3 separate regions of the Homo sapiens genome follow, and all the other regions are linked to region 2. Evidence: fine-mapped expression QTL. A gene starts in region 2. Each other region holds a variant in brackets. All regions are shown on one strand. Distances are from middle to middle.

Region 1 (6,388 bases), 190 kb before region 2:
ATGTATAGGTCACGAGGTCAGGAGTTCTAGAACAGCCTGGCTAACATGGTGAAACCCTGCCTCTACTAAAAATACAAAAATTAGCTGGGTGCCTGTAATCCCAGCTACTTGGGAGGCTGAGGCAGGAGAATTGCTTGAACCTGGGAGACAGAGTTCGCGGTGAACCGAGATCGTGCCACTGCACTACAGCCTGGGCAAAAGAGCAAGACTCTGTCTCAAAAAAAAAATGTATATCTATATATACACACATATATATATGTGTATATATATATGTATATATGTGTGTGTGTGTGTGTGTGTGTGTATATATATATATATTTATATATATATATATGTTCACTCTGTTTCCCCCAGTGATAACATCCTGCCTAACTATAGCACAACACCAAAACCAGGAAATTGGCATTAGGCCAATCCACAGAGCTTATTCACATTTCACCTGTTTGATGTGTTCTTGCATGTGTGTGTATGTATAGTTCTGTGCAGCTTTTGTAATGTATAGGTTCATGTAACCACCACTATAATCAAAATATAGAACTGTTCCATCACTAAGGCTGTGTCGCTATCCTACATCCACTCCTACCCTGATGAACAATCAGTAATCTGTTCTCCATCTTTAGAATTTTTCATTTCAAGAATGTTATATAAATGAAATCATATAGTATATAACTTTTTAATATTGGCTCTTTTAGGCTAGGTGTGGTGGCTTATTCCTATAATCCTAGCACTTTGGGAGGCTGAGGTGGGAGGATCACCTGAGCCCAGGAGTTTGAGGCTGATCACGTCACTGCACTCCAGCCTGGGCACCAGAGCAAGACCCTTTCTCCAGAAAAAAAAAATAAAATAAAAACAGTTTGGCTCTTTTCACTCAGCATAATTCCCTTAAGAGCTATCTAAGTTGCTGCATTTATCAATAGTTTGTTCCTTTTTACTGCTGAAAAGTATTCCAGTGTATGGTGTATGGATAGACTACAGCGTGTTTAACCATTCACCTGCCGAAGAATATTTCGGTTGCTTTTGTTTATTACGAATAAAGACATCATGAACATTCATATACAGGTCTTTGGTGAACGTAAGTTTTCAAAGCTTTGAGATAAGTACTCGAGAGTGCAATTATTGGATTATATGGTACTTGTATATTTAGTTTTAGAACAATTTGGCAAATTAAAAAAGAGTGCCTCTGACTGCTAGCAAGAGGTGGGACTCCCTTGGATTGGGGTCTGTCTGATCATTACTCTGCCAAGGAACCAGCTATGGGACAATGGACAATTCGCCCAGCCTCTCTGTGCCTGCATTTTCTTTTCTGCCACTTAACAAAAATAGTGCCTTCCCCACAAACCCCACAGGCCGTTATGAATAATACATTTATGTAAAAGTTCTTTAAGCAAAACATAAACATATGACATTAGTATTTCATTGAGGACCAAATATACCCTTAAAAACTAGCATAATTAATTTCTCTGTCCGACTCCCTCACCTTACAAAATTCCTTAGATTTTCCCGTTCCCCTCTCCACCTTTTTGAGCTGCGTCTCAAAATGCAGTGTGGCTGGCTCCAACAGAGGTGCTCTTTTGTCTTGGGAGCTGCTTTTCTAGTCTAGATCATTAAGCTTTCTCTCCTCTCCTAAATCTGCACTCTAGGAAACTGATGTTGTTTATTCACCCTGTGCTCTTGTAACTTCTTAGGTGTCTTTACGTCTGAAAAATACATGAGCCCCAGACCAAGGACTACTGTCCAAACTACTATTTAGCTGAACCCACCCAAAAATACAAGCTTTAATTTGTCTTAAAGAATAGATAAATATTAGTTTAAGCTCCATAATGAAATATAAGTGTAGATTCACTTTACTCACAGTTCCACTGAAAATTGTGTGTGTACATATGTGTGAAATAGGTTGAAAGGGGGCTATTTTTTAATTACCATAATTTGTCTATATTTTTGCAGAGAATAGTAGGATATTCTTTATGGTTTGCTATTATGGTCATCATTCCCTTTAATTTTTAACTATGTGGTTATTCACTAAAGGGATTGGGTTCATGGACTTAGGTCAAAAATTGAGAATTAAAGAATTAATGGTCATTTATGATCATCATTACCTTTAATTTTTAACTGTGTGGTTAATCACTAAAGGGATTGGGTTCATGGGCTTAGGTCAAAAATTGAGAATTAAAGAATCCTTTGGGGGATATTTTAAGGAAAAAAAAGAACTAGTGACCACAACGTCTTTAAATTAAGTATGAAAACACAGTTAGGATTTCTAACAGTGAACTAAATAGAGACCCTGGAATAATTTCAAGTTTTCTTAATTTGAATGCTTATTTGCTATTCATACTTGATTCTCCCCACCTCTGTAACCTCATTAAGAAACAGAGTGATGTGTGTATCAGAAAAAGAGAGAAAAAATGTATTTTCATGATTTCAGGAGGCACTAGGAAGAGTGTCTTGATGAAAATACCTTTCAAAAGTCTGCCACATAATCCTGAAATCCACCATTAGAGACTTATTACTTTTTAAGCACTGGTTCTCTAGAAGGCAGAGATATTCAGCTGCTGCCAGTTGAGAACACAGAAACAAGGCCACGTAGGGTGAACTGCAGAGCACAGGCTCTCCAATCAAATGGAGCTAGGGTTGAATTTGGCTGTGGCATTTACTAGCCGTGGGATCCTGGGCAAATTACTTTTCTCTGAGTCCCAATTTATTCACCTTTAAAATGGGGTTAATAATGACTATCATATGAGAAGTACAATTTAAATGAGCACATGTTGTCTCTCCATATATATATATGTATATATACATGTGTATATATATATGTGTGTATATATATATATATATATATATATATATATATATATATGAGAAACTTAATATACTACCTGGTTTAAAATAGGTTCCCAGTACATTGCAATGATAATTATTAGCAATGGTAGAAATATTTAATTCAAATTGAGATTTGCATAGCTTTAGGGGTACATGAGGACATCCCAAGAGCTATGCAGACTCAGAATCAATTTCCAAATTCTTTCTCTCTCCCTCTCTCTCTCTCTCTCTCTCTATATATATATATTTCTATATTTGCTCAAAAGTGCCCCTGAATCAAGCTGCTTCTCCTTATCCACCTTTTCTTTTATAGCTCCTTTTCTTCTGCCCTACAAAAAAGTGACATATTTTTCATCCA[C/A]CTCAAATTATGCTGTGGTACCTTAATTGCCCTGGGTATACAAACCTCTGGGACACCAAGCTGAGGAAAGTCAAACTATGGGTATTTGAGAGAGAGAGAGACTCTCAAAGGAAATACTCTGTTGAAGGAAATACTATGGGTATTTTCCTTTAATCAAACCAGCATAAACCAAAGGTGCAGGGCATATTATCTTTCTCTGTCTTATGCTTATCTCTTTTAGGGGCAAAGCATACCTTAAGCAGGTATGCTCACCCATGTCGGGGTGTTTGGACTTCAGGAGTATCATGGAATTAGGCAGGAGAAGTGATGGCATTTTCCTCCTGTCTTCACTACTGGCAAAGAAGGCATTGTTCCTGAGGAAAGAGACTTGAGAATAAAGCAGGCTGGGCACAGTGGCTCACGCCTGTAATCCCAGCACTTTGGCAGGCCAAGGCGGGCAGATCACTTGAGGTCAGGAGCTCGAGATCAGCCTGGCCAACATGGCGAAACCCAGTCTCTACTAAAAATACAAAAATTAGCCGGGCATAGTGGTGGGACCCCATAATCCCAGCTACTCAGGAGGCTGAAGCAGGAGAATCGCTTGAACCCAGGAGGTGGAGGTTGCAGTGAGCCGAGATCACACCACTGTACTTCAACCTCGGTGACAGAGTAAGACTCCATCTCAAAAAAAAAAAAAAAAAAAAAAACAAAGAAAAAAACAAAGAGAACATCTCTTAGAAATATTGGCCGGGCGCGGTGGCTCACGCCTGTAATCCCAGCACTTTGGGAGGCCGAGACGGGCGGATCACGAGGTCAGGAGATCGAGACCATCCTGGCTAACACGGTGAAACCCCATCTCTACTAAAAATACAAAAAATTAGCTGGGTGTGGTGGCGAGTGCCTGTAGTCCCAGCTGCTCAGGAGGCTGAGGCAGGAGAATGGCGTGAACCTGGGAGACGGAGGTTGCAGTGAGTTGAGACCGCGCCACTGCACTCCAGCCTGGGTGACAGAGCGAGACTCCATCTCAAAAAAAAAAAAAAAAGAAAAAGAAAAAAGAAATATTGAAGATGGCAGTAAGTTATTCATCCAGGTGGCAAACTCATGGGAGGTCTCTGTCTATCTTGAAATATTCAAGATTTGTAAGAAGTGTACTGGGAAATGCCAGTGAGCTATGAACCACATTTTCTCTGCAATTTCACCATCTCAGTAATGAGAGCAAGCTCTGTGAATACTCTCATTTAGCTGCATTTTACTCTATGTCTCAGGAGTGTAATTTGCATAACTTCAAGGTGAAAAGACTACAGTTTCTTCCAACATATCAAGGCTACATTTTCTAACAAAAGAAACACATATTAGAGGTAAGTTAGTATTTTGTATTTTCTTAAATATTTACTCAGATTTATAGGAGAAACACTTTCATTAATTTTTGCTAAAAGTTAGCAAAATATGAAATCTATATTCATTTCTGATGAAGGTACAGGTCTCCTGCTCACTGTCACTCATGAACAACTTTCCCGTTCATGTATTAATTCCTGCCATGTAGTTATTAGGTATATAAGTCAGCTTGTGTTGCCATAACAAAATACCATGCACCAGGTGGTTTAAATAACAGAAATTTATTTTCTCATAACTCTGGAGGCTAGAAATCCAAGATTAGGGTGTCAGCATGGTCAAGTTCTGGTGTGGGCTCTCTTCCTGGCTGGCAGATGGCTGCCTTCTCCTTATATCCTCACATGGGGGGCAGGAGGAGAGAGAGAGAGAGTGAACCAGCGAGAGAGAGAGAGAGAGAAAGGGGGCACATGAACGAGAGCATCTGGCATCTTGTCCTCTTCTTTAAAGGACACCAGTCCTAGTGAAGTAGGACCCCAGCCTGTGACCTCATTTAACCTTTATCACCTCTTCACAGGCACTATTTCCAAATATAGTCACATTAAGGGTTAAGCCTTCAAAATATAAATTTTGGGGGAATGAAATTCAGTCCACAGAATTAGCATTAAGTAATTTAACAGGAATATATTGCAGATTATACTCTAACTAATGTGCTTAGAGGTCCTTAATGTGCTTTCCATAATCTTGTACTATACTTATTGGTGACTAAGTTCTTTCTCTTGCTGTCAACTTACATAAAGTATTTAAACTATACTGTCAAAAGCAGAAATCTATTGGTTCAAAAGCAAAAAAAATTTTTCCAAAATGTAAATCTAATATGCAATGACCTGAACTTTAGAAAACTGGCTTGATTGAATTAGGATTAATTTCTCCCTTTCAGATGTTAATATATTGATTTCAGTTCTGCTAAGTGTATTGTCTTCAGTCATATTTGGGAAGAAGTTATTAGTATATACATGAATATCCCCAAGTGTCTGTCCTTCTGTCATTTCTTTACTCTGCATTTTGAGACATTCTTAAAAAATGAAATTTGGCATTGTATATAGGTCTCTGTTCACAGTCAAGGAGAAAAGTCCCCAAATGCACAATTTACAATTTTCTGTTTTTGTTTCTAACTCCAGTTTCATCTTTTTTAGGTCCATAAGCAAGACGCCTGTAAGTAAAAGGGTGATGGTATAATCAACAGCCATGTGATAAGTCTTGGCCAAGCTTTTTTGGGTCATACTTCCTAGAAACTTAGAAAGTGAGCTCTAATAATTAGGTAACACATTTCTTCTTCTTCTTCTTCTTCTTCTTTTTTTTGTAAATTAGGTAGTTTCCAATTCTTTGCTTTCAATAAAATTAAAGGAGGACCTACCCAAGTTGTCAACAGATAGGCCAATAGTTTTTGATAATAGATCACTATGTACTTTTTGACTTATAATCAAGAAGGCATTCAAATAACAGAGTGACATTTTTATCAGAAAATGCCTAACATTCTCATTACTTATTTAATTGAACAAGTTTTCTCAGGGCTTACGTCTAAAAAAATAAAAAATAAGAGTAGAATTGACGCTGACTCTGTCTCATTTTAACAGTTAGGAACAGCCACAGATACCCGAACTAATTTAAAAAGATCCATTCATTTAGTTTAATTTTCCAATAACACATAACTTGCTATGTTTTATAATTATTTATCAAAATATGCTATATATTTATGTTGCTTTGGTCAGTTGTATACTAAAAATCATTATAAAAATAATTCAATCCAGAAAACTTCAAAATTTTAAAAAGGAATAATACAAATTTTTCGGTTGTTAAAAAAGAGGTTGTTGGTGAATTTTTAAGACTGAGGGTGGGAGAGTA
Region 2 (6,388 bases):
TTCAGCATGATGTAGACTTATAGTCTTTCATTTCCTCACTCTCATTTCTCTCAGTCTTGTCTCTTGTGGCTCCACCTCTCTTCCTAATCCAATCTATACCCATTTGTCACTCTGTGTCAGAGCTTCTTTGTCCTCTGCTGAATCCGCCTTGTGGATCTTGATGAGTTCCACTGTCAACCCCCTCCTTGTTCACACTCAGCCCACTGAACTGCTAGAGGGAATCATACAGACACTGGGGTCACTGCCATTATAATTTTATTATTGCCAATGTCAACCAGACCTTTTGGGCTCCTCCCCTTTTCACTCTCCACAGCAGCAATTCCAAATGCCCATCACTGTCCTCAACCCACCTTTCTCTTGGGGAATGACTCTTACTTCCTAGATGAGACTTAGACTGCAGATACCTTCAAACTCTCACTTAGCCCTTAATAACTACAACTTTTGACACCGTCCAATGGTTCTACCTAAGTCTAAGAAAAAGAAGTGTTTCTTCTCCCACTCAAAACTTATTCATTCATTCAACAATCACTGAGTGCCTATCACATCCTAATAAACACTGTGCTATATGCTGGGGAAACTAGAGAGGAAGACGTAGATCCTACCCATAAGGAGCTTAACATCATGTAGGGGAAACTGATCTGTAAAGGAAAAATAATTTGACGTGCATTAAGGTATAATGATAGAAATAAACACAGAACATTACCAGACTGTGGGAGGAAAAGCCACCTAACTCAGCCTTCATTGGAAGAAGACAAAATGTCATGAGGGACTTTCTGGATGGAAGGTTGCTTGAGCTAATTCTTAAAGAGGGAGTAGGCATTAATTAGGCAAAATTGTGGTAAGAAGGAGACGGGAGACTTGAGGATTGAAGAGCAGAGAAAAGAGAGATTGAGTATAGGAAGAGATTATAAGTGAAATCATGAAGTTGGAACTCACAAGTAACCTCAAGCTCCACACATTCTCCCCAGGCTTTTTCGTCCTTTATTCTTTATCCAAGTATATGGCACCCCTACCAATCTGGTCACTAGAAATATAGATTTCTTCAATTCCTCCTGTTTCCTCACCTCTGTCCTTCAACTAATAACTAACTTCTGCTGATTCTACTGCATCAACATTTCTTGTGTGCCTATCCTTTCTCCACCTTCACTCAGGATTAGTGCCACCGTCTCCTAATTGGCCTCACTTCCATACTCCTAGTAATCTCTCTAACATGCACAACTGATTACATCACTGCCCAGCCAAATACTGGCTGTTCCAGGATGATAGAAAAGACTTTTATCATACAGCCACTGCCCCCACCTCTGCAGCCTTATTATTCCCTTGCTATTTGTCATGCCTCAAGAACTATCAGCAATTTCCCCAGTGTGCTCTATTATTTCTTGCCTATGTGTCTTCCCCTCAAAAGGCACAAGAACATTTTGATGCAACATCTTAATATGCTCATATTTTAATGCAGTCTAAAGTAGTAATCAAACATTTAGCTAGTCTTTATTTTTCTTTCCTGAATAATGACTGTAATAGACATTCTTAACCCATTCTTCTACCCTTCCCTTTTGATTCTCTCCAGGATGATGATGACACCAATGACCTTCAGCTGATTGGCTCCCCGTTTTAATCTGCCATCAGTAGTCTTAAATTATCTTAAGTGTCCTGCTTCAAGTTACATTGTTTCTGCTACTTCAAATGCCCTCTATTTTGCTTGTCTTCAGAGGGCACCCCATTCTCCTTTTATTACCATTGCCACCACATTCCTCTCTCACCTCTCAGGAAATCCTTCCAGTTCTGCATTTTAGTCCCTGATTACAATCGACCACACCGTCTCTGTGCCCTGTCTCCAATTTCTATATTCACTCCTGTTGACACCTCTTACATTTTTATGTCCCTCCATAGGAAATAATCTCTCTGAGGACAGGGATCATTCATTTTCCTGGTTTCTAGCACTTCCTACAGCTTTGGAACAGAACATGTACTCCCTTAATTGACACCAATGCATAGGGAGAGCACAGTAAGGACCACAGTAGATCCAGGGGATGAGGTACTGCCCTTCATTAGAAGCGAGGGCCCTTGGTGTGCCCCCGTATGGGAGGAGGGTTTACGAGAGGGCAGACAGTGGTGGGGAGAGAAAATTGGAATCCGATTTATAGTAATGGAATCTCAAAGGAATGCTACTATCTTATTCGTATGCTTCCCTATTATATGTATCCTAAGGAAAATTAATATTTTTTTCTCTAAATAGTTTTTTAAGGTAATATATATGTAGTAAAAATTCATATAGTATAAAAGGATATTCAATGAAAGTAAAGCTCTTTCCTACCCTATTCTCCATTATTCTTTCCCAGAGGTGACCACCAGTCTCAGTTTCTAGTCTTTTCCTTAAAAACCTTTAAGTATAGAAATGCATATTACATATACATTTATAACACACCATGCAAATATATCTAAATCCAAACCTAACTGTACATCTATATCTATATTTTAATATACAGTTGGTAGCATCCTATCATCAAGAGCTCTCTATTTTAGCTCATAAAGACATTATTATTATTTTAGTGCAGTAGGAACACATAACTTGAGGTCTACCTTCTTAGCAAATTTTTAAGTGTACATGATAGTGCACCATTATTTATTAAACTGCTACATTATATTACTACTATAACTGCATGATATTTAATCAGTTCCCTATTGATAAATATTTAATTTGTTTTGGTCTATTACTATTTCAAGCACTGCTGTAATGAAAGTCCTTGCACGTATGTGTATGAATCAGGGTCCAGCAGAAGCAGATGGCACATCCCAAGCTTACCTGACGAGTTTAGTCATGGAGGTACTATTTACACAGGTGCTGGCAGGATGAATAGAACCAGCAATAAATGGCTAAACATTCAGGAACTCCCAACAGTGACAAGCCTTCACCACCCCAGGCATGAAGGGATAAGGGGAGGGAGCAGTGTTACTAGAAGCCAGTGAGACCATGGCTGTGGGAGAGAGGCCAGCCAAACGGAGCTACAGCCACATGGTGAGGAATGGAGCCAGTAGCCAAACTGCAGCCATCAGAGTAGGAGCAAGAGGAATAAATACCCTGACTGCTATCTCCTTTTGCTCTCTGGTTTTCTGCTGGTTCTTCCAGCTGCTGAATAGAAGTGGAAGTCAGAGGTTGGGGAAGCCCAGGTGATGCAGTCCATGGAGGTCAGTCTGCAAGGTACAGGGTAGGCAGGGAGAGGAAGGATAAATGGGGAATAATCAGTGTAATATGTTGTTACACAAATGTGCCATTAATCTAGTAGAAATTTTCCTAGAAGTTGAATTGTGGTGTCAGCAGGAAGGAAAGAGCTGGCCACATGTCCCTCAATCTCCCTTCTCCTCCTCTTCCATGGTAATACAATGCAAAGCTGTGCAAATGGCGGCCCAGAATTAAGACTACATTTCCCAGCCTCCTTTGCAGCTAGAGCAGTGGAACGGGAAGTGTCGCGTGACAGCTTCTGAAAAACTTCTCTGAGAGACAGATGACAAGTGCCTTCTGTCCTCTATTCTTTATTCGTTTTTGTACTTCACATGCTGCCTAGGGCCACACCCTTTTGGTGGTGAGTGGGGAGCTGGAAGGAGCCAGGTTCTTGAGGACTTTATAGGGTAAGAGCTGCCCTGCCAGTTCTAAGCTATATACCTCCAGATTTTATTTATTTGGGAGAGAAATTAACTTTTACCTCGTTTAAGCAACAGTTATTTTCTTTTCTATGTCAAGTACCTAAATCTAATCCTAATGAATATAATGGGTATAAAATTTTTGAATTTTTATGGGTGTTGTCAAGCTTGGTTTATTTAATTTAAAAATATCTAATTGACAGATAAAAAGTATATATATATTCAAGGTGTACAACATGTTGATGTGATACACATATATGTACACTGGATACTGATTACTACGATTACTACAGTCAAATTAATTAACACATCTATTACAACCCGTAGTTAACATGTGTGCGTGTGTGTGTGGTGGTGTGGTGTTTTAAGTTGAATTTTCCAGACTTTCTGGGTTTGAATCTCAGCTTCTCCATTTACTAGACATGTGATCTTGAACAAGTTTCTTAATCATTTTGTGCCTTAGTGTTCTCATAGTGATAGTGATAGAAACTACCTCATTTGGTTGTTATGAGGAGTAAATGAGTTAGAATATCTGAAACACATAGAACGTCTATCTGACATAGCTGATACTCAAAAAAAGTAAGCTATTTATATTATTATTACTAGTATCATTTTTAATTGTCCTCCAAAGAAGATGTACCAATTTGTCTATTCACTGTCTGGAAGTGTCTCTTTCTCTCCTTTCATCAATACTGTGCATTAGCAAAGATTTTTGTCCAGTAAATGAATAGTGATATTTCATTTTATTTTAAATTACCATCTAAAATTTTAAGGTTGAATATCTTTTTATATTTTTATGCCATTTATATTTATTTTCTGGTGAATTTTCTGTTTGTGTGCTCTGTTCATGATTTTTTTTTGAAATAACTCTCGAATGTATAATGAAAATTAGCCTTTTGCATGCTATGGGTGGGGCAAATATTTTCCCAAGTTTTTATTTGTCTTTGACATTATTTTTTCCATACATAAATTTTAACATAGTAAAAATGATCCTTCTTTTTCATTATAACATCTGAGCTTAATGAGAAAGGTCTTTCTCACTCTGGAGTATAAAAATAATTCCCCATGTTTTTTTCTGGAAGTTTATAGATTGGTTTATATCAAAATATTTTTCCATTTGGAATTTAATTTGGAGTAGACAGTGAAGAACGAGTTGAAGTAATTCTTCAGAAAGCTTGGTTGGAGGGTTGACAAAAATGAGCTATCTGACATATAAATCCTGCAGAAGTTATAGCTTACTGATCCGCACAATAGGTATATTTTAAACAAGTATGCCAGTACGCCCTGGCCATCGGGCATGCAGAAGTTTGCTGAGTTTGCCTCTTCAGCTTTCTCTTCTTTGTGGGAAACACATGGGTTGTTTGTGATCATATCTTGTGTTTCTAGAGTAAGGTCTTGCCAGGTCTAGCATAATTACTTAACCAGTTTGCAAAACTGCCTTTCACACATCATATCACCTGGTTCTCACGTCCAGGTAGTACACAATTTCTTCTCCTGCCAGCAGGGCCACCTTGCTATTCGTTCACAGGATAAATAATAATGCCACAGTATGTCATACCTGTGCTAACAATGACCCATCTGTGGACATGACAGTCAGGGACTACCTATGCTTCACAGCCAAGGAGGGATGGAGCCCAGCAAGCTGCACCAGGACCTGCCACTGGCCTTCATCTTTGTCTTTTTTCCAGGTAGTTTATGAGAACACAAGCTCTAGAGTAAAACCATTTGGCTTTGTACTTCCACTCTGCCGCTTTTGAACTATTGGTCCAAGCGCCAAGTTCACTTCGCCTTTTTGTGCTTTAGTTTCTCATCTGTAAAGTGGGGATTATAACATTGTGTGGGAATTAAATAAATAAATATATGTAAAGTGCTTAAAAATTGCTTGGCAACAAGTACTTAGTAAATATTAAAAGGGCTTTTCCCCAATCCAGAATATAAAATAATTCCTTTATTTTTTTCCTAGGACTTTACAGATTCATTTATATTAAAAAGTGCATAATATTTATAATAAATGTAACTATAATAAATGTATAATATTATAATAATAAAACATTGGTAAGAAAAAAGTGTTATAACTTTATGAATAGAATCACTATCATTTGAAGAATGCATTTGCTTCTAAATGTCACCTTTGTCATAACTGAATTTGCATATGTGTTTGAGTCTAGTTCTGGATTCTCTATCAATTCATTCATCTAGCTTAATCACAAATGCTTTATAATATGTTTTATTATCTAATAGGGCTTGCCTAATTCATTATGCTTCCTTTGTAGATTTTTTTTCTGGCTAAGCTTGAATTTTGATATTTATACAAAAGTCTTAGAACCAGCTGCTCTTATATTTAAAAAATCAATTAATATTTTATTGGGGTTGCAACAAATTTACATATTCATTTAGAAAGAATTGACAGTCTTACCATATTAGCTTTTCCTATTTCAATTAAAAATGCTCTTCATTTGTATTCAAGCTGATTTTGTTTTAAAATGTCTCTCGGAAAGTTTTTTGAAAGTCTTTTTTTTGTGTAGTTACTGCACATTTCTTAAGTTTACTCCCTCTCTCCTTCCTTCCCATCCTTTCTTTTTCTTCCTTCCCTTCTTCCCTTTTTCCTCCTCCTCTTCTTCCTCTTCCTTTTCCTCTTCTTCTTTTATGGTAAATAGCACCAATTCTTTTATTATGTTTTCTGATTACTTCTTGTTTGTATAGGGAAGAACTATCAATTGTGACTTTGTGAGTTTGTGTTCCACAACTG
Region 3 (6,388 bases), 170 kb before region 2:
ACTTGCCCAAGGTCCCATGACTTGTCAGTGGCAGAGCCAGGCTGGAATTTGACCCTGCATTCCAGGAATGAGCACCTTTATTATACCATGCCAGGCCAGCACCAAAATTCCAGGACTGCTTTTACAAGTGTTACATTTAACCAGGGTTCTTAATTACTAGCTGGTAAGGAATTTGCATAGAACCATATGGATGTAGATCAAAATCATGTGATTAAGTGTTTCACAAGTGGTAAATTACATATATGTGTATATATATATGAATGAGAGAATTAAAATTACTTTAAAAATATATTTAATTTTAAAAAAAGCCTTGGGATCATCTATTGAGATGAAAACAGTAATGTCATGGAAAGATTACCAGATGTCTACAGGAACTGACCTCCCATCTTGCCCTGCCATTCATTGGCTGTGGAATTGCTTCATTTTCCAGTCAACAAAACGGGGATGTTGATGACTGCTGTACCTTCAATAAACACTCTGAGGATAAATAAAATAGAATAAGTGGAGTGTTCCGAGGGTTTCTTACCTTCCTAAAAGAATTAAAATAGGAGACTTAGGCTTTAGACCACAACTTGTTTAACTTATGTTGCTGATGACTACAAGTTTCCTTGCAGTTATGAGTCAGTGATTCTCAGGAATTCCTTTTTGCACCACTTAACCTTTAAACTGTTTTCTTTATTGAACCTTAGATTTAGAAGACTGAGAAATCACCTAGAGATTTCTCCTCTCAGTTCAACTACCCACTCATAGAAATGCTGATACAGAACTTATTCCTGTGCAAGGTAGTTTATTCCGTGGTTGGAAAGCCACAATATAGAAAAATGTTCATGTTATTGAACAAAAATTTATCTCAGTGTAATTTTTTTGTCATTCATTTTTATTTTATTTTTCTATAGGTTATTGGGGTACAGGTGGTATTTGGTTACATGAGTTAAGTTCTTCAGTGGTGATTTGTGAGATTTTGGTGTGCCCATCACCTGAGCACTATATACTGCACCCTATTTGTAGTCTTTTATCCCTCACCAGGCTCCCACCCTTCCCTCCAAGTCCCAAAAGTCCATTGTATCATTCTTATGTCTTTGTGTCCTCATAGCTTAGCTCCCGCATATAAGTGAGAACATACCATGTTTGGTTTTCCATTCGTGAGTTAATTCACTTAGAATAATAGTTTCCAATCTCATCCAGGTCGCTGTGAATGTCATTAATTCATTCCTTTTTATGGCTGAGTAGTGTTCCATCATATATATATAATATATATATTATATATATTATATGATATATATATAATATATGTATTATATATATTATATGATATATATAATATATGTATTATATATATTATATGATATATATATAATATATGTATTATATATATTATATGATATATATATAATATATGTATTATATATATCATATGATATATATATAATATATGTATTATATATATCATATGATATATATAATATATGTATATATATATCATATGATATATATATTATATATATTATATGATATATATATTCCGTCATGTATATATGATATATGTATCATGGAACCAACCCAAATGCCAATCAATCAATTAGTGGATAAAGAAACTGCGAGATATATATATATATATATATATATATATATATATATATATATATATATATTCCATCATATATATGTGATATATATCATGTATATAATTCCATTATGTATATATGATATATATATATATATATTCCATCATATATATATCATATATATATGGTTGAACTACACTGGGCTTTAACTACACTGATCTATGTTTCTTCCATCTTTTAACATAAATAAGTCATTGCCTATATTCCATCATATATATATGATATATATATATCACAGTGTAATTTTTAACTGTAATCTTAGTTTTTTTTGTTTTGAGTTACATAGATTTTATCAATTCTTAAATTATTTGAATTCAACTATCAAGTTTCTCCTAAATTTTCAATGTTGTAGTAAGAAAGAAGATAGCATTATTAAGTGGCTACTGTGCAATATTAACACTTTTATCTGGGTGTTTTCAATTAAAACTCAAAATAAGTTAATGCCAAGTAACCTCCATTCCTGCATTGATGAGACTAGTAAAGTTGCTAAAACCATAAGCCCTGAATTTAGGCACACCTGGATTTAAGTCTTGGCCACTTACTAACTATAAATTGCAGAAATTACTTAGCCCCTCAGGCTTAGCTTCCTCGCTGATAAATTTTAAAAGCAATAATTCTAATGATAATGTGGTGGTTATGAGGTTAAAAAATATAATGCCTGGGCAACATGATGAAGCCCCATCTTTATGAAATATATATAAATTAGCCAAACATGGTGACGTGCCTGTAGTCTTAGCTATCGGGAGGCTGAGGTGGGAGGACTGCTTGAGCCTGGGACGGGGAGGTTGCAGTGAGCTAAGATTGTGCCATTGCACTCCAGCCTGGGCAACAGAGCAAGATCCAGTCTCAAAACATATGTATATATGGCATGTGACTATATAATGCATAGTAACTGTTCAATAAATGTAAGCTATTGGTATTATTAGTCTCTCTGTCTCTCTCTTTTTTTTTGGCCTTATGTTTATCCCAAATAATTTGTATTTTCTTTGTTTTGGGCCTGATTTCTATATGAAGAAATAGTTTTGAATTGTCTCCTCGTGTATTAGCTCTGTCTCCCTAATTTTTAAATTGAAATATTCATAAACATGCATTCTGTGGTTTTCATGTTTTTGACAAAAATATTGAACAGAAATGAGCAAATCATAAATTCTTGGAGTTTGCCTTTTAAGGTGGAAGTCAAGTCTTTGGCCAATATTCTTTGGGTGACATTGAATGCCTAACTATGCAGCAAACCACCAGTCATCTTGCTGTTACCTGGGCCCTCATTCCTCCATCTTAACAACAAAAGGTGTGCATCACGATATTTGGCAAATGCTATGCTAAAACCAAGGCATACCATGTGCATGCCTTCCTCCTGACACACAGGCAACCAAATCTAAGAAAAGAAGTGAGACTGGTTGGCATGACTTGTTCTTAGTGAATTCACACTGGTTAGTATTTGTTTACTGTATCTTGCCTACAAATCATCCATTTTAGAATTTTGTTTGGCGTCTGCATGAGGCT[C/T]ATCAGTTTACATACAGATCTCATTCTTTCACTATTTTTAGAAGTAGAAACATTTTCCAGCCATTAGTCACCTTTTCCATTCTCCTTGATTCTCAGGAGCAGTTCTCTGATCTCATCTGCAAACTCTTTTGATACTTTGGGATAGAATTTGTATTAACAGAAGTTTTGAAGTCATTCAGAGTAAGTGAAGATTTCTCTTACTATCTCTTTTTCTATTGTAGGTTTTAATTCTCTCTTCATAATGTTTGCTTCAAAATTGATGTTCATCTCTCTTAGAATATGGAAGGAAGCAGAAAATTGAATGGTTCTTTGATTATGTTATCATTTGTTAAGGTTATATTGTAATTTTTTTTTTTTTTTTTGAGACAAGGTCTTGCTCTGTGGCCCAGGCTGGAGTGCAGTGGAGTGAACATGGCTAGTGAGGGTTTACTTTCTGGGCTCAAGTGATCCTCCCACCTCAGCCCCGAGTAGCTGGGAACACAGGCGTGTGCTACCACACCTGGCTAATTTTTTACAAAGTTTTGTAGAGATGGAGTCTCACTTTGTTGCCCAGGCTGGTGGGCAAGAGGTCCTCCTGGGCTCAAGTGATCCTCCTGCCTTGGCCTCCCAAAGCATTAGGATTACAGGTGTCAGCCACCATGCTTGGCCTAAGGTGATATTGTCTGAGATACAGCATAGGTTTTTCTTCCCAGATCTTTTCTTGGCTACGGAGATTAAAAAGAAAAACAGCTTTCTTGCTGTCTTTAGTATTTATCTCCGCCCCTACTTTATTTTAAGACTTTATTCTCATAATACTCTAAACAAATTTTCCCTTTCTTTTATCGCATGCTTGGGTCTGTCCACCCCATCCGTCCTCTGAGCCATAGGAACCTCGAGTCTTACTACTCCAGATCTAACCCTCCTTTTACCTCCTCTCTGAGAACTGTGTGCTCCTAGACTATTATTCTATTCTTGCTGTTTATGTTTTCAGCACAAGCTTGTTTATGGTCAATTATCTGAGATTATTTCTATTATATTTTCTTTCCAGACAGCATATCTTTCCTCCTAAACAGGATCATTTTTGTAATGCTCAAGTAATCCTGTTTTCAGAGTCTACATTCCTCTTCTAAACATATTCCCTTGGGCACTATTATTTTCCTTACTTTTTATGAAGCCCCCTTTCTGAAGGTCTGACCATTACCTTTTTCACTATTATAAACATCAAGGCCATTTTATTCCAAGGTTTGCTTGTTTCTGCATTTGACACCTCCTTCTTTCTTGTTGGAATCCAGGACAAAAATTTCCTAAATGTATTCCTTTACCTGCTGAGGGAAAATTGTCAGTAACCCAAACCAAGAACAAACTCTCCGTCTGCTGTGCGCTGGGTTGAATGTGTGCCTTTCCCCAGCTTATGTTCACCTGGAGCCTGTGAATATGACCTTATTTGAAAATACAGTCTTTGCAGATGTAATCAAGTTAAGACGAGGTCATACTGGATTAGAATGGGCCCTAAATTCAATATAACTGGATCCTTATAAAAAGAGGAGCATTGGGACACAGGGACACAGACAGGGAGAAGATCGTAGGTGGAGACTGCAGTGATGCATCTAGAAGCCAGGGAGCACCAAGGGTGGCAAGCAACTGCTAGAGGCTAGGAAGAGGCAAGGAAGGTTCCCTAGAGGCGTCAGAGGAAAACATCAACCTGCCAGCACCTTAGTTGCAGACTACTAGCTGCCAACACTGAGATAATAATTTTTTGTTGTTTTAAGCCACCTAGTTTGTGGTGATTTGTTATGGCAGCATCAGGTAACCAATACATGTGGTTAATAGCAGGATACCACTAACTGGTTCCAGGTGGCCAATTCTGTAGCAGTTTTGCTACATGTATCAGAAGATAGCATGGCTATGTGGCAAGAATATAGACTTTAGGCTTAAAGACCCATGCTCGAGTCTTAGACCTACCACCGATGAGTTGGGCGATCTGCAGCTGCTAAAAGAAAAATTTTGGACAAACTAAATTTAACAGAGTTTAATTGAGCAAAGAATGTTTCATGAACTGGGCAATCCCCAAACCAGAATAGATTCAGACAGACTCACGTGAAAAGGATTTATGAACAGAAAAATGAAAGTGAAACAGAAGTGAGGAATAGGAACAGCTGGATTGTTACAGCTTGATGTTTGTCTTATTTGAACGTGGTTTAAACAGTTGGCCATCTGCAATTGGCTGAAGCTCAGTGATGGGTACAAGAGCAAGTTACAGTCTGTTGATACATCCAGTTAGGTTACAGTTCACTATGTGCAGAGAAACCTTTAGCCTCAACTTAAAAATATGTAAGGAGGCAGCTTTAGGCTAAACTTAATTTAACAGGGCATGGTCAATTAATCACTTATAACTTCCATAAAATAATGATAATGTATTATTCATCTGATAAGTCTTCTCTGAGATTGAAGAAAATGTGAGAAAGCACATTTTAAGTTATAAAGCCCCAACAAAGGCTATTGTATTGAGCACCCTTGACATAAGTAACTCCATCTTAAAAAAAAGACTCCATCTTACATTTCACGGGACATTTTGCCAACAGGGATACGATGTTTGCTTAATAAATTTGTAATAAATAAAGACTGCATCCAACCAGATAAGGGCATAAACAAGCACACACTTCCACTATCAGTCCTCTGGTGGTCGTAAAAAGAGCAGGGCTTCAGCAGCTCAAAGCGGCCATCTTAACTGACATGCTCTTACTGTCACTAGTGATCAACACCTGGCATCTGCTGCTGAAGGCTCTGCCCACATCAAAGACTTTTCCTTTCAAGACCTTTCCTGGACCGCCGAGCACAGACCAGGAGATTCTTTCTGTCTTCATCGTCACTTTCCTCGGACTACTTCATTAATCCTTTTTCCTATTCCCTTTCTCTTGATGTTAAATATTACTTTGGTGTGGAATGTTTAATCTTAACATTTATATGTTGATGAAATATACTACTATATATGGTTTGCAATGTTGACTGACTTGTGGAGTGGCTTGAGCTGTGTGCTCTGACTACGGAGTGAACGAGAAGTACTAAGGAGAGAGTTGCCTTCTTGAGAACTCCATGTAGCTTGTGGCTTTTGTGGTTAAAATAGCATCAGTAAAAATCTGACATTGTGGAGACACAAACATGCATGGACCTGGTTATCTCTGACTTTGCCCTGCTCATGAGAGCTATCTAGGATTGTTTTACCCAATTTCCTTCATGTGCTGGGTATCTGTATTACAGTCCTTCAAAGATACTACTTCCAT

Direction of the effects. Alleles are on the strand shown, and positions count from the first base shown. SD is a standard deviation of normalised expression in the study named.
As copies of A replace C in region 1, the expression in adrenal gland of the gene that starts at base 3,534 in region 2 goes down (small effect, 0.38 SD a copy in GTEx).
With allele C in place of T in region 3, the expression in aorta of the gene that starts at base 3,534 in region 2 is lower (large effect, 1.1 SD a copy in GTEx).

What was found. PIP is the estimated chance that this variant, and not a neighbour inherited with it, causes the effect. A credible set is the group of variants that fine-mapping cannot tell apart.
Region 1: its variant is the best candidate, but not a certain one, in a credible set for the expression of CTB-30L5.1 in adrenal gland (GTEx, PIP 0.89).
Region 3: its variant is the best candidate, but not a certain one, in a credible set for the expression of CTB-30L5.1 in aorta (GTEx, PIP 0.57).

What each region holds. Positions count from the first base shown.
Region 1 is chr7:106,782,880-106,789,267 of GRCh38, reverse strand. All of the region lies in intron 1 of LINC02577 (long intergenic non-protein coding RNA 2577), which reads right to left. Among named protein-coding and RNA genes, the nearest start is that of LINC02577, 11 kb to the right of the region's middle. The variant C/A (reference allele first, on the strand shown) is at 3,176.
Region 2 is chr7:106,595,993-106,602,380 of GRCh38, reverse strand. CTB-30L5.1 (a long non-coding RNA gene) reads left to right here and starts at 3,534. Exons shown (of 4, transcript NR_187788.1): 1 at 3,534-3,627. RefSeq lists an enhancer at 3,376-3,425.
Region 3 is chr7:106,767,072-106,773,459 of GRCh38, reverse strand. No RefSeq gene overlaps it. Among named protein-coding and RNA genes, the nearest start is that of LINC02577, 4.8 kb to the left of the region's middle. The variant C/T (reference allele first, on the strand shown) is at 3,129.